Homo sapiens: one gene and its partner. The protein of the gene in region 2 interacts with the protein of the main gene of each other region in a pairwise test. Each region holds a gene or a part of one and is shown on either strand. Other genes may lie near its edges.

What was found. The genes of interacting proteins can lie anywhere in the genome.
Region 1: the proteins of BMF (region 2) and BCL2L10 interact in binary tests that used the Homo sapiens proteins (3 or more experiments, as listed by UniProt).

Annotation. Positions count from the first base shown.
Region 1 is NC_000015.10:52,109,776-52,116,830, reverse strand, and holds the start of BCL2L10 (bcl-2-like protein 10), read left to right. Parts: upstream 1-4,055; 5' UTR 4,056-4,104; coding exon 4,105-4,593; coding exon of another isoform or gene 4,594-4,663; intron 4,664-6,857; coding exon 6,858-6,983; coding exon of another isoform or gene 6,984-7,024; 3' UTR 7,025-7,055. UniProt on the Homo sapiens protein: Promotes cell survival by suppressing apoptosis induced by BAX but not BAK. Increases binding of AHCYL1/IRBIT to ITPR1. Reduces ITPR1-mediated calcium release from the endoplasmic reticulum cooperatively with AHCYL1/IRBIT under normal cellular conditions.
Region 2 is NC_000015.10:40,098,876-40,105,934, reverse strand, and holds part of BMF (bcl-2-modifying factor), read left to right. Parts: coding exon 1-140; intron 141-1,594; coding exon 1,595-1,755; intron 1,756-7,059. UniProt on the Homo sapiens protein: May play a role in apoptosis. Isoform 1 seems to be the main initiator.

The DNA.
Region 1 (7,055 bases), about 12 Mb from region 2:
AGGTCACACCAGTCCGAGGTTGGACAGGCAGTTGCTAGGCAGATGTCTTTGCAGAAGTAATTTTTGTGTGAGGTTGCAGCAGCCTATGTGCAAGGTTGTAATTTTTGCAGAATCTTTTGTGATCATTTTTGGTATTAGGCATACAAGCATGAGAATCCCCTCTTCATGGCCTCCCCAGCTCTATTTGTCATGGTTTGTTTTTTTAAAACACTAGTGACTCTATTTGAATTCTAACAACTTTCACATTCCCAACACAAATGATAGACATTTAAGGGATTAATATGCTAATTACCCTGATCATTACACATTGTATACATGTATCAAAATAACACACTGTACCCCATAAATACATACAATTATGTGTCAATTAAAGATCATTATTTTTAAAAATAGGACCAGAAAAAAAGATGCAGACCCTCTAGTAAGGAGATGGGATCAGGAGTGATTCCATGGTTAATTTAACCCACATAAACAACTAATCGTAAGTATGGTATGAGCGTTTATGTAAAGACTGTGACAACAGGAAATGTCTGTCTTTGAACCCAAGGTTATCTAACCAGCACACCAATGGTGAAAGATTAACTTTGTCAGAAACCAGGAACCATGAAGCAGAGGTCACTGTTTCCAACCTGTGTGTTTTCCACGGTAATTGGCAGCCTCCCCAAGGGAAATTAAAACATATGTCCACACAGAAATTTGAATGCAAATGTTCATAGCAGCATTACTCATAATAGCCCAAAGCTGAAACAGCCCCAATGTTCCACAGTGGATGAATCGATGAACAAAATATGGCGCATCCACAGAATGGAATACAAAGAAAGAAAGCGTGGACACATGCTGCAACATGGATGAACCTTGAAAATATTGTGCCAGGGGAAAGAAACCAGAGACAAAGAGCCACATGTTGTAGGATTCCATGTATATGAAAGGTCCTAATAAGCAAACTCATAAAGACAAAAAGCAGATTGGTGGTCACTTAGGGCTAGGGTGAGGAGTGACGGTTAGTGGGCACTGAGTTTCTCCGGGGGGAACTGAATTAGATGGTGGTGATTGCACAATTCTGTGAATAGACTAAAAACCACTGGACTGTAAGAGGGTGAATTTTTTGGTATATGAATTACATCTCAATAAAGCTGTTACTTAAAACGTGGAAAAAATAATAAGCAGTCACTAGCTATTCTCAATAAAACAGAAACCACATAGGTAAGACCAATATTGTCACATTTTGGTTTTGGCTGATAATGGGGCAAGTGAGCATAGTCACCGTTGCCAGAGGATTTACCATTTACAAATAAAAGTTTCTGTGGAGTGACAACCTTTTACTGTGTGCCAGGTACTGTGCTAAGCACTTTGTATATACCGATTCATGTAATCCTTGTGACAGCCCCGTGATGCCCCATTTTTAGATGGGGAGATTGAGGTTAGGAGAGTTGAATAACTTGCCCATAGCTGCACAGCTTCCAAGTTGCAGAGACAGGATTTTCACCGAGTCTTATTACAAACTGCCTCATATTGTGTGGACTGGAAATTCTATGTTGAGGTTAATTTATTCATTTGTTGTTTAGTTCTTTTCATCATTGTTGAGTTACCAATGGCAGTTCCAGAGGATTTATCATTTACCCCAAAGCTACTGCAAATCTAAGAGAAAACAATGTTCTTGCTGCTAAAGTTTAATGTACAAAAAGGTAAAATCATGACTGTCTTGCAAATAAAACATGAACATGTATCCAAGCTTTTAACTCACTGATTAATAAGGAAACCAGTAAGACGTCAAAACCAGTTCAAATGGGAATTTGATGTACAGAAATTTATATTCTAACAACACTTATTTAGTTCACTGTAAGAAATCATTTGCTTTGGCAGATTAGGCACTCAGCAGAAGCACCAGCCAGCTCAGCCTTTGGAGGGAGAATTCCATGTTGTTGGACCCATACATATCCTCTGTCCCTGCTGCCAAGAGCTCTTTGTTCATCGGCCCGTTGAGCAGACACCACAGCAGCTGCATAGAGAGGCTGGCTGACAGCCACAGAGCATGTAATTCTGTCCATCTGATTCAGGGTCTTCTCTGCAGTGGATGCCCTTTGGTGGGCATTCAGGTGAGATGCAGATATCTTCAGTCTGCCCATTCGGAGGGATTCAGCCACATATCTCTTTCCAAGATTTTCTTGTCACCAATCTTCCAGTCCTGTTCTTTTTAAGGCCCTGACCATCCAGCTAAACCATCAGCGACTGTCCATGAATCAATTTAGGTCTGTATTCTGGCCATCTCTCACTCCAGACATAGTGGACAGCCTTGAGTTTCTGCTCACTGGAAGGATTCTCCTTCACCACTGCCCTTCACAGTCACCCCTGAGTGAGTGTGAGTGAATACTGCAGCTGTTCTCTTTCATGTGGTACCAGCACATCATACAGACCCATCTATAATCCAGGCTGGAGGTTTTTCTCCCTCAGTCAACTGGACATAGGCAGCATCCCAAGAAGCCATAGTTGTAGAATGAGGGAGAGGAGGCAAAGCAACAGGAGTTGATGTTGGAAGAGTCTGAGCCGCCTGCTCATACAATTTACTTATACCTTCTGAACCTGCCTGGGCTGTTTCTAATACACCATTTCCATTTGATGATAGGTGGCTGCTGTATACATCCAATTTTATGGCTACGTAGGTCAGATGACATCCAGTTCATGATGGGAGCTCAAGCTTCATGGTCAGGCATTCTGCCTCTATCAAGGCCTAGTAGCAAGGCAGAACCTGCTTCTCAGAAGGAGAGTAGTTATCTTCAGAAGAGGTTCTAGATTTACTTTAGAATTCTAGAGGTCTGTACTCTCTCCTGTCAGTGCTTGCCAGAGGCTCCATACAGCATCCCTGTTGGACAAAGTCCCACTGGATCTGTTGGATCACAAGACCCAAGTGGTAGGGCAGCTTTACTGCAGCCTGAACCTTCTGCAGAGTCTTCTCTTATTCTGCTCCTCAATCCACCAGCCTGTCAATTGGGTTGAAATAGCACAAACACAGTATATGTTGCCTTCAAAGTCCAAAATGGCTTACTGTTCCAGGCTGTGTCCCCCAAAATTCATATGTTGAAATCCTAACCCCCAGTGTGATGGTATTCAGAGATGGGGCCTTTGGGAGGTATTAGATCACAAAGGTGGAGCCCTCACGAATGAGATTATTGTCCTTATAAAAGAGACCCCGGAAAGCTACTCCACACCTACTGCAATGTGAGGACACAGCAAGAAGCCTGTTGTCTATGAACCAGGAAGCAGGTCCTTACAAGACACAGAACCTGCCAGGGCCTCAACCTTGGACTTTTTAGCCAACAAAACTGTGAGAAATAAATGCCTTTATTTATAAGTCACCCAGTCTATGGCATTCTGCTATAGCCGCCTGGACAGACTAAGACAGCTGCCAAGTGCCGTGCCTCTTTTGTAGTGATGCAAGATGCAGCAACTCATCTTTCACCCTGGGAGGGCTATTTCAACATGCTCCAGACCCCTGAACCCCCAGAAATACCACTGCTAGTATCCATTCTGCATCAGTCTGGATCCAATCAGGAGAAAGAAGCCACGGAGTAATATGAACTGAGAAAGTTTAATATAAATATTAGATGGCCGGGCGCGGTGGCTCACGCCTATAATCCCAGCACTTTGGGAGGCAGAGGCGGGCGGATCACGAGGTCAGGAGATCGAGACCATCCCGGCTAACACGGTGAAACCCCGTTTCCACTAAACAATCCAAAAAAATTAGCCAGGTATGGTGGCGGGCGCCTGTAGTCCCAGCTACTCGGGAGGCTGAGGCAGGAGAACGGTGTGAACCTGGGAGGCGGAGCTTGCAGTGAACCAAGATCGCGCCACTGGAGCTAAATAACCCGAGTCTCACAGTGCATCTGATTGCTACGCGAACACGTGCGCACCACCAGGCCTTGCCTTGGGGACTGGAACAGGTGCAGGTGGGATTCCCATCAAAGGCTCTTCTCTCAGTCCTGAAAAACAATATACCGGGGGCCGGGGGCCGGGGGCCGGGGCGGGGCACGGCAGCCCTACCCTGGGGGAGGCGCGGCCGGGCCAAGAAAACCAGCGAAGGCCCGGCCCCCCAGCAGAGGCCGGACCATGGTTGACCAGTTGCGGGAGCGCACCACCATGGCCGACCCGCTGCGGGAGCGCACCGAGCTGTTGCTGGCCGACTACCTGGGGTACTGCGCCCGGGAACCCGGCACCCCCGAGCCGGCGCCATCCACGCCCGAGGCCGCCGTGCTGCGCTCCGCGGCCGCCAGGTTACGGCAGATTCACCGGTCCTTTTTCTCCGCCTACCTCGGCTACCCCGGGAACCGCTTCGAGCTGGTGGCGCTGATGGCGGATTCCGTGCTCTCCGACAGCCCCGGCCCCACCTGGGGCAGAGTGGTGACGCTCGTGACCTTCGCAGGGACGCTGCTGGAGAGAGGGCCGCTGGTGACCGCCCGGTGGAAGAAGTGGGGCTTCCAGCCGCGGCTAAAGGAGCAGGAGGGCGACGTCGCCCGGGACTGCCAGCGCCTGGTGGCCTTGCTGAGCTCGCGGCTCATGGGGCAGCACCGCGCCTGGCTGCAGGCTCAGGGCGGCTGGGTGAGCACGCGGCGGACACCGGGACACGGGGCGGGACGGGCAGCCGGGAAGCGCCCACGAGGCTGGCACGGTGAGGAACCCACCGCGCCAGGCCCCTGGAACGAGGTTTCGTGAAAGCAGAAAGGCTCGTTTCAGCGGGCCTGGAACGTTCGCTGTGAAGTCTGGGGTTTCTCCTCCCCTGGCAGAAAGGCCGGCAGAAATCGGCCTTCTTAGACGGCCGTGAACCGTTCCGAAGCAGCTGCGCAGGCTTAGGTCTGCTCACTTGGACCTTGCCCTGGCCTTAGCCGTCGGGGACTTTTAGGGGGGCACCCACGTTAGGTCTGAACGTTTTGCTCCTATAGAAATCCCCAACCAATGAAGTCAGCAATGGCGGGGCCCCAGCCAGGTGGGGTGTTTTTCTCCTTCGCCTATTAAATGCGCCTTTGGAGAGACTCAGACCCATTGATCACAACCCCCTACGCCTCTCAGCCTGGCCAGAGAGGTTGTGGAGTGTGGTGGTCGCCCAGTGGTGGCGCTGACCCAAGGTTCCTTAATTTCTAGTCCTCTGCACCCAGTCCTCGGTGAGAACGTTCTAGGCCCCTGGCTTTCAGCTGCAAGCCTTCATCTCTGTGGTCAAGGTTAGAGGGACAGGCCCTTGCCCTGCAGCTGATGATCAAGGAAAGCCACCTGGTGATGAGCCCACTGCATGCCTCTGGGGGCTCTGAGCTAGACCCCATTTCTTTCCCCACCACCTTATTGGCGTTGATTCAATGACTGAAGTGGCCCATGTTATCGGATACCTATAGCCAAACTATTAAAACCAGCAAGTTTTTTGATCCGAAATGTAGCCTCCTGGGGGCAGTTTCCATTTAGACCTTTTTCTTTTTTTCTTTGAGGCGGAGTCTCGCTCTGTGGCCAGGCTGGAGTGCGGTGGTGGATCCCAGCTCACTGCAACCTCTGCCTCCCGGGTTCAAGGATTCTCCTGTCTCAGCCTCCGGAGTAGCTGGGACTACAGGCGCGCCCCACCAAGCCTGGCTAACTGTGTGTGTGTGTGTGTGTGTGTGTGTGTGTGTGTGTGTGTGTGTTTTCAGTAGAGATGGGCTTTCACCATGTTGGCCAAGATCTCGATCTCTTGATCTCGTGATCTGTCTACCTCAGCCTCCCAAAGTTCTGGGATTACAGACGTGAGCCACCTCACCTGGCCCCCATTTAGACTTTCTATAGTGACAAGTTGGGTTCTATCTGAGAAGGGAAAGGGAGTGGGAGGTGTGTTAGCAGGAACTCCTGCCTTGTTCATAATGTTAGTGTTGGTCTTCAACCCTCTGGGCCGGTGAACTCCCTTCAGCTGCGTGCCTAAGAGCCTCACCTGAGCCCTGTCTCAATACGGCATCTGGCCCCTCCGGGCTCTCTGTACCTGAAGAAGAGATTAGAATTGGAAAGGGGCCGTTGAAGCCTTTTTTTGTTGTTTTTGGCTAATCACTGTTGATGAAAGAATAATCTCTTAACACCAAGGAGCTGAAATTCTTGGCTGGGTGCAGTGGCTCGCACCTGTAATCCCAGCACTTTGGGAGGCCAAGGCAGGTGGATCACCTGAGGCCAGGAGTTCAAGACTAGCCTGACCAACATGGTGAAACCCCCTCTCTACTAAAAATACAAAATTAGCCAAGCACGGTGGCAGGTGCATGTAATCCCAGCTACTAGGGAGGCTGAGCCAGGAGAATCGCTTGAACCCAGGAGGTGGAGATTGCAGTGAGTTGAGATCTTGCCATTGCACTCCAGCCTGGGCACCAAGAGCGAAACTCTGTCTCAAAAAAAAAAGCTGAAATTCTCAAATTGGGTAAACATAGTTCACCCTTGTCTCTGCCCATTGCAGTTAAAATGCCACAGCCTGGAGTTCAATTCCCTTCCTAAATGGGGTTGGTGCTTGCTGTAGTGTCAGGTGATAACTTTTCAATCTAGTGACTTGACAGTTTCCCAAAAGGCATCTCTTCTTTGCTCAGAAAAGAGCATAATAAGCTACCTTCCTCTTGGTTTTGAGTCAAGATATGAGTGTTCCTGCACCAAGTGACAAAGTTAAATGCTTGCTTCTGTTCACTCTGTTAGACTTACCAATCCTCACTCCTCAGGGGCTCCTCATTACTGGATGTGTATTGGTCAGAATTTCCTTTCCTTTTACTTTTTAAATCCAAACTTTACTTTGCTGTTTAATCTGGAAGTTCCTGCGTGTTTTGAGTGAGGTTCTCAGCATCATGAGGCAATCTAACTTTTCTCTCTCCCCCCTGTAGGATGGCTTTTGTCACTTCTTCAGGACCCCCTTTCCACTGGCTTTTTGGAGAAAACAGCTGGTCCAGGCTTTTCTGTCATGCTTGTTAACAACAGCCTTCATTTATCTCTGGACACGATTATTATGAGTTTTAAAACTTTTAACCCGCTTCTACCTGCCCAACTGTGACCAACTAAATGACAGATGTGTGAGAACAAGA
Region 2 (7,059 bases):
TCTCACCCACTGCTGTGGCCCTGGCCTTCGACCCACCAGCCAGGAAGACAAAGCTACCCAGACTCTCAGCCCAGCCTCCCCCAGCCAAGGTGTCATGCTGCCTTGTGGGGTGACTGAGGAACCCCAGCGACTCTTTTATGGTGAGTGCTCTCAGCCTCAAGACTCCTCCCATAGAGACTGGGGGAAAAGAGGGGACTTTCCCTCCCCAAACCTGCCCTTTGCTGTTTCCTTCCCCCAAAGTGATCAGCGGGGCTGTTGATTCCTTGACTTCCACCTGCTGCCTCTCGGCTTGTTATTGCTCCTCACCTGTGCCTCAGACCCCCCAAAGGGCAAATTGTCCCCTCCTGGAGGGATCCTTGGGTCCATGGTATCTCCTTTTACATCTTGTGCCCCTTGAGTGGCCTGGCCTTTAGTGTCCTAGCAGTGACTTGCCTACTATAAAGTGGCTCCTGTTGCCCTGGAGAAGTCTGGGGGATCTGTGACTGGCTGTTGACAATGAAGGGAAAAACCCAGCCGGTTCTGGGAGGGAGGGTTCCCAAAGGCAGAAGGTGGCCCCCAGTTGCCACATGGGACTTTCTGTGTGTGAAAGGGGAACTGGAGAAAGAGGTTGGGCCTGCCTGGGCCCAATGCCAGGAGAGGGGATGCTTCCAAGGCTAAGACAAGACCCCTTCATTTGTGGGCTTAAATAGTTTGTTTTATGAGAAATATGCCCTCCTCTGGCAAAAGGGCAGGGTTAGACAGTCTGTTTTCTTCTATTAGCACTGCAGCTTATGGAGGGAGGGTAAAGGCTAGGAGCGTGGCTTACTGTGTCTGACGAGCTGATTGAGGAGACACTGCAGTTACTCCCAGAGGGAACTGCCCCTTAGGGCAGTTCTGGCAAAGCAGTTCTGGCGGGAGTCTGAGAAGTTGGATAAGGCGGGCAGGCGGGGAAGAGGGAAAGGAGCGAGGAGCCCGGCGGACTGGCGCCCCTAGCGGTGGTTCTAACGCGTGCACTGGGTAAGTGTGGAGCGCTGGTCTAGAGGTCTTGCCTGGGGCTGTCTCCGGAGAGCAACTTGGCAGCTCTGTGCGTCTCAGTTTTCTCTCCCTCTTTTTGTGCTGCTGCCCAGGAGCTTCGGGAGACCAGCCTTACTCTACTGCACTAAAAAAGTGAAGACACTTTTTGATTTTTTCTTGCTCTGCCTCTTACTTTGCTCAACCCAGAAACTGGAGAGCTACCTCCAGTGCTTTTCCAGAGAAGAGCTTCAACCTGCTACTACGTGAATAACCAACTGTGGTTAAGGGTAGCTTGATAAATAAGGACGGAAGGCTGGCATGTTCGCCTGCACACGTTACCACCTGCCCTTTGTCATGGCACTGTCAGTGAATGGAGAAGCGAAGAGAAGGCTGGGGCCATTCTTTCTGTTCTGCAACTTTTATGCACTTGGGCAGCAGGCTGTCCAAGCTTGGCAGAGTGCTCCAATAGAGGCAGGCTGGCTCCTATCCTTTCTCATATGAGGATTTACCCTCAGCCTCCAATCTTGGCCAGGTCAGGCAGGCGTAGGGAGGTTGGAGCAGTTGTGGAGAATGCTGAGATGTGGATCCTCTATCTTTGCAGGCAATGCTGGCTATCGGCTTCCTCTCCCTGCCAGTTTCCCAGCAGTCTTGCCCATTGGGGAGCAGCCCCCCGAAGGGCAGTGGCAACATCAAGCAGAGGTACAGATTGCCCGAAAGCTTCAGTGCATTGCAGACCAGTTCCACCGGCTTCATGTGCAGCAAGTAGGCACGGGGGTTTAGGGGAGGAGGGTTGAGTCTGCTGGGGCTTGGGGGCCAGGGCCTGCCTCTCTCCTCTTGTCAGCAACTCTGTCTCTGCCAGACCTCAAGGATATTGTCCCAGAGTTTTGGTTATGGCGGTTCCCATGGGCAGGAGGGGCCTAACTGGCTAAGCATCTTGCCCTCATCTCTGAGCTCCACATTGGTTAACTGCCCAGTCTCAATTCATGTTCCATAAGAGCCCTCTCGGGAGAGGCTACAGTCTGGGAATAGGATGGCTTTCTGCAGCTCTGCTTGACAACCTGTCTCTTCTTATGGCCGTGGCTGAGGGGTTGCCCCTCACGGACCTAAGAGGAAGATTTTCCGGGTGCTGCAATGAAACTGGGCAGTTGGGGGGTGCCTGGCTAAGGTACAGTGGGAAACGGGTAACCAGGCCAAGGGATGGGGCCTGAGTTGGGGAAAGTGGTGGAACCGGTTGAAACCTGACACTTTCCAGCTGGGGAGGCCGCTCCTCACTGTCTCTGTCTGGGAACCAGGGTCTGGGACTCCGGAGAGTGTACCTCGGAGAGGCTCCCCAGACCGGCGGCCAGCCGGGCGCTCAGCCGGGCGCTTGGCCGGCAGCCTGGCACCAGCCCCGCCAGGGCGGGGCATCACGTGTCAGCCGAGCATGTGGCAGAGTCCATCAACAAAGGCGGCGGCTGGCAGGCTCGTGCTGGAGGAGCCCTCTGTGCCATGGCCTGGAGGCTGCCTTCCCTGTTCCAGCAGCCGCTGTCTGGGCTGGGTCCCCAGGCACTTAACCCTTCCTCTTCGGGCTGGCTTTCTGGATGGCTGCCAAGGCTGGGAGAGGAGCCTGAGGCTGCATCCGTGCTGGTACAGCCACAGCTGAAGCACAGGCATGCCACCTGGAAGCGAACACATTCTGTACTTCTGGGACTGTGTCCCCAGCCCAGCTGGCTCTGAATGTGTGTTTGTGTGTCTGACTGCGAGGAAATCAAGGGAATAAATAGCTTGACCATGACTGGGCAGACTCCGAGGTTAGAAGGGTAGCTTCAGGTGGTCGGAGGAGAGCTATTGGTAGGTTGACTTAAGGGTCAAACCATTACCAGTGCCAGGGGAAGAGGAATTGACCTTGGCTTTCCTAAGAACAGGACATTGCGGGTTACATATGGTTAGTGCCCTCTGCCAAGGAGTTCTAAGGACAGTTTGGGGCCAGGTCTGGGCCTGGTAAGTCCTCCCAGTCCCTTAGTGATCAGGAAGGGAGGGTGGCCCTATGCTTAGATAATAGATCTAAGCTCCAGTTCTTACTCTCTCCTTTGATTATTTGGTGGAAACTTGGCTTCGAGTTTCCCCTTCAGTCCATGTGTGGACTCACTCTGATTCTTGTTTTCAGTTTCTTGGCCTCCTTCCTGCCCATTCACTCCACCGTGGTTGTACAGGCCTACGGCTGAGCCCAGCTCACAGCTTCCAGTCCTGGTACTGGAGAGGATGGGAGGACACAGTGGCTGTGGCTCTTTTAGACTCATCTAGCGGGCTCCGTGGAAGGCAGCTTGCTTCATTTGCAATAATCTGATCTCTTTCACCAGTTATTCCCCAGAATATTCCCCCATCCACTGGTGAGCCTCTATAGGCTTGGGAATAGGCCGGGAGCCCTCCCTGGCACAGGACTAGGATACAGTCCTGGGGGCCCTCCTAACTTGGTCCTGAACAGGAGGAGGAGGAGGCCCTTATCCCAAGGTCTGGCCCTGATTTTTTTTTTTTTTTTTTTTTTTGGCTCTTTCGCCCAGGCTGGAGTGCAGTGGCATGATCTCGGCTCACTGCAACCTCTGCCTCCCCAGTTCAAGCGATTCTCCTGCCTCAGCCTCCCGAGTAGCTGGGATTATAGGCACGCACCACCACACCTGGCTAATTTTTGTACTTTTAGTGGAGACGGGGTTTCGCCATGTCAGCCAGGCTGGTCTCGAACTCCTGACCTCAGATGATCCACCTGCCTCGGCCTCCCAAAGTGCTGGGACTACAGGCGTGAGCCACTGCGCCTGCCTTGCCCTGCTTTTTGCTGGTTGGCATCACTTCTCCCAGTTCAGAGCTGCCTCTTTGCATGCACAGGTTAGTTTTAGACAAGGTGTTGTGCTTTTAGCCAGAGCCACCCAAGCTGGGGAGAAGGAAAGTGGAGGTGCAAGGCATGAGAGTCTCCTCTGCCTTGCACCTTACTCCACACTGGCTCCCAGGTTTCCTGTACCCCTACCCTCCTGCCATCTACCTACTTCTTACTTACAAGGGTAGGAGGCTGACCAGTGAGCCTTTTCTAGCTCAAAGAGCTGGTTTTCCCAAATTTTCCAGTACAAAGAGCCAGGGTTTTGTCTTCTCCTTAAACAGTTCTCCCCAGAGTCTTCTTGCTTTTAACCCCCTCCTCCCCACTGACCCTACTTATAGACCTTCACCAGGAACTCATCCTGCAGGAAGGGCTAAGGTGATGGCTTCAGGCAGGTGGAACACTGGTACTCCTGGAACGTTTCAGCAGCTGGTTTTGAGAAGTGAGTCATTTTCTAAGCTTGATTCTTATATAAACTACAGTCTAAGATTTCATATCTAGAAAGTACTGTTGTCACTCCTCCATTCTTATCCTTTATCTTCTTTCCCTATTCCCTTCCCTCATTTTTGCAGGCAGAGAAACTGAGGCAGTGGGAAGGAGGTTATTTAGGATTTAGTTTCTAGGCTTTGGGTTCAGAGTCAGAAAGCCCAGGTTTGAATACCAGCTCTGCCATCTACTAGTTTTCAGGAAGTCACTTGACTTCACTGAGCCTATTTCCTCTTCTATGAATTAGTGCTAATACCACAGAATTTTACTGTGATAATTAAGTGAGAAAATACCTATGAGAGTTTGGGACACACAGTAGATGTTCTTTAATGCCTGTTTCCTTCTTTCTGTTTATGATCCTGATCACCCCCGACGTTTGTTCTTGTTGGTTCACAATTCATTTCCCACTCCACCTGGCAGGGGACTCCCTGAGCAGAGCTGCCTCCCCTGAACTTCCCTCCACCTGCCTGGTCCAGAGGAATTAGTGTCCAGACTGATCATCTGTGGACCTTGGCCTTATCGATTTCTCTTCAGGGAATGATAGTCATTCCCCATCATTGCGGGCTGGATTTAGAGAGCCAAGAAAAGCAACCCTAGAGGCAGATGGGACTTGAGGAGGCCTGACCGTCACCTTTCCCCTACATCTGGGATAGTGTCCTGGGGCTAGACAGTGGCCACTGGTCCATAGTCCTGTGGAGAGTGTGCACTCCCCCTTTTTGTCCCTGGTTACAGACCTGAGTTACTCGTTTTTTTGCACCAGAACGACCTTCTCCCTTGGAGGTATGGAGCAGAGGGAGGGGGCGTGCTGATGCCATGAAATCCCAATTGAGTGTATCGACCTGGCTCCAGATGCAACAGGTTCCAAGTTTCCCTGGGTGTCGTTTTACGTGGGCCATCTGCACTTTCAGCGCATTTCCCAAGAGCCTTGCTAGGTGGAGGACTAGCCTGGTCACCCGAGTTACCAGTTCAGGGTGACTCTTCCAGATCCACAGGCAAAAAACCGGAGGCAGAAGATCAGAGTTAGCAGGGTGCTCCGCCTCAGCTCTTTGTGTCTCCAAAGCAGCAAGAGAGTTGGAGGCAGAGTGAGTGGAGGTAAAAACCTTTCAGAACCTCACCACACATCCCACCTTCCTTTGGCCGGGGCAGGAGTGAAGGTTCCCCTGTTTGCTCCTCTGTGAGCTGACAAACTGTGGCAGGGACCCCCGATGGTCTGCTGATAATGACTTATCTTGAGGGTGGTGCTGTGGTGCTTCTGTGTCCAGCTTCTGCATGGAAGAGCATGGTGCAGATGTACTTCCTCCCTGAGCCCCTGGGCTGCCCTGGCCAGAAGGTCTGAGCCCCAGCTTTCCTGTCCTTGTGCCATGGCCTCATTCAGCACGAGCCTAAGGAGGGGCAGGAAGTGGTATCCCCTCCCCTTGGGAGAGTCTTCTGTCCCAGTGGCCCATCATGACATTTGGGGGTATTTCTGGGCAATGTTAAGAAGCCAAGAATCCTCAAAAACAGTAGTTACTGTAAACAGTCGAGTGAGTAAAGCTACAGGAGGGTTGGAATTCTTCATGTTGGAAATGGCTTTTTCACTTGGACCAGGAGTGGCTCCATTCAGAAAAGCCGGGTTTGGAAATCTCTGAATAGTAATTAGACTTTTTGGCAAATGAAATCTGAGAAAACTTTCAGCCACTCAGTTGAAACCATCTTTAGCTGTAATATCACAAAAAGGATCCTAGACTTGTAGGCAGATCTGTTAAAATCCCAGCTCTGCCACTTATAAGTTATGTGTTCGTGGGCAAATCATGTAATCTCTCCAAGCCTTTTTTTTTTTTTTTTTTTTTTGGTGAGACAGCGTTTCGTTCTTCTTGCCAAGCTGGAGTACAGTGGTGCGATCTCGGCTCACTGCAACCTCTGCCTCCGGGTTCAAGTGATTGTCCTGCCTCAGCCTCCTGAGTAGCTGGAATTACAGGCATGCACCACCATGCCTGGCTAATTTTTGTATTTTTAGTAGAGACGGGGTTTCTCCATGTCGGTCAGGCTTGTCTTGAACTCGCGACCTCAGGCGATCCGCCCATCTCGGCCTCCCAAAGTGCTGGGATTACAGGTGTGAGCCACTGCACCCGGCTTAGTCTTGGTTTCTAATACTTACCTTGCCTAGTTGATGTGAAGGGCCTTTAGGAGTTGTGATACAAATAACTATTAAGTCAGGGACAGTTGAGTACTTTTAGAAATATGTTAAAAGATGACTTTAGGATTTTGCTTGGACCTGACTTTGTAATTTGGGGAGCTCTTTTGGAAGTTGTACCCGAGTTGGTGTTTGCATGGTTTATTAACTAGCAGCTTCTCTGCCTAGCAGACTGGATCCTTTGTTCAGGGAGCCCCTGATTGCTTCCTGACACTTTGGGATTCTCTAGTTATTAGTGAGTGGTTTTCTGGAACTTAAGCTGGCTAACTAGGTTGCTCAGCGTCTAGATGGGACAGCCCCGGGCAGGGGCCCCAGAGGTTTGCTATAGAGTGAGATGGGTCCCTAGGAAGCCAGCCTCTGTCCCAGGAGTGGGAGGCCCACCTAGGACAGTGCCAGGGGAAGAATGAGGCTGGGGGAGGGACTGCGGAGAGCCAGAGTGCGTGAGAGCCAGCGCCGGGGCTGGGGGCCCTGTGTTTGCTCTGTGGCTGGCTCTGTTTATATCGCTCGCTATATTTAGCTTCTGAGTCATCAGCGTGGCAGACTAGAGGCTGAGTTCCCCACA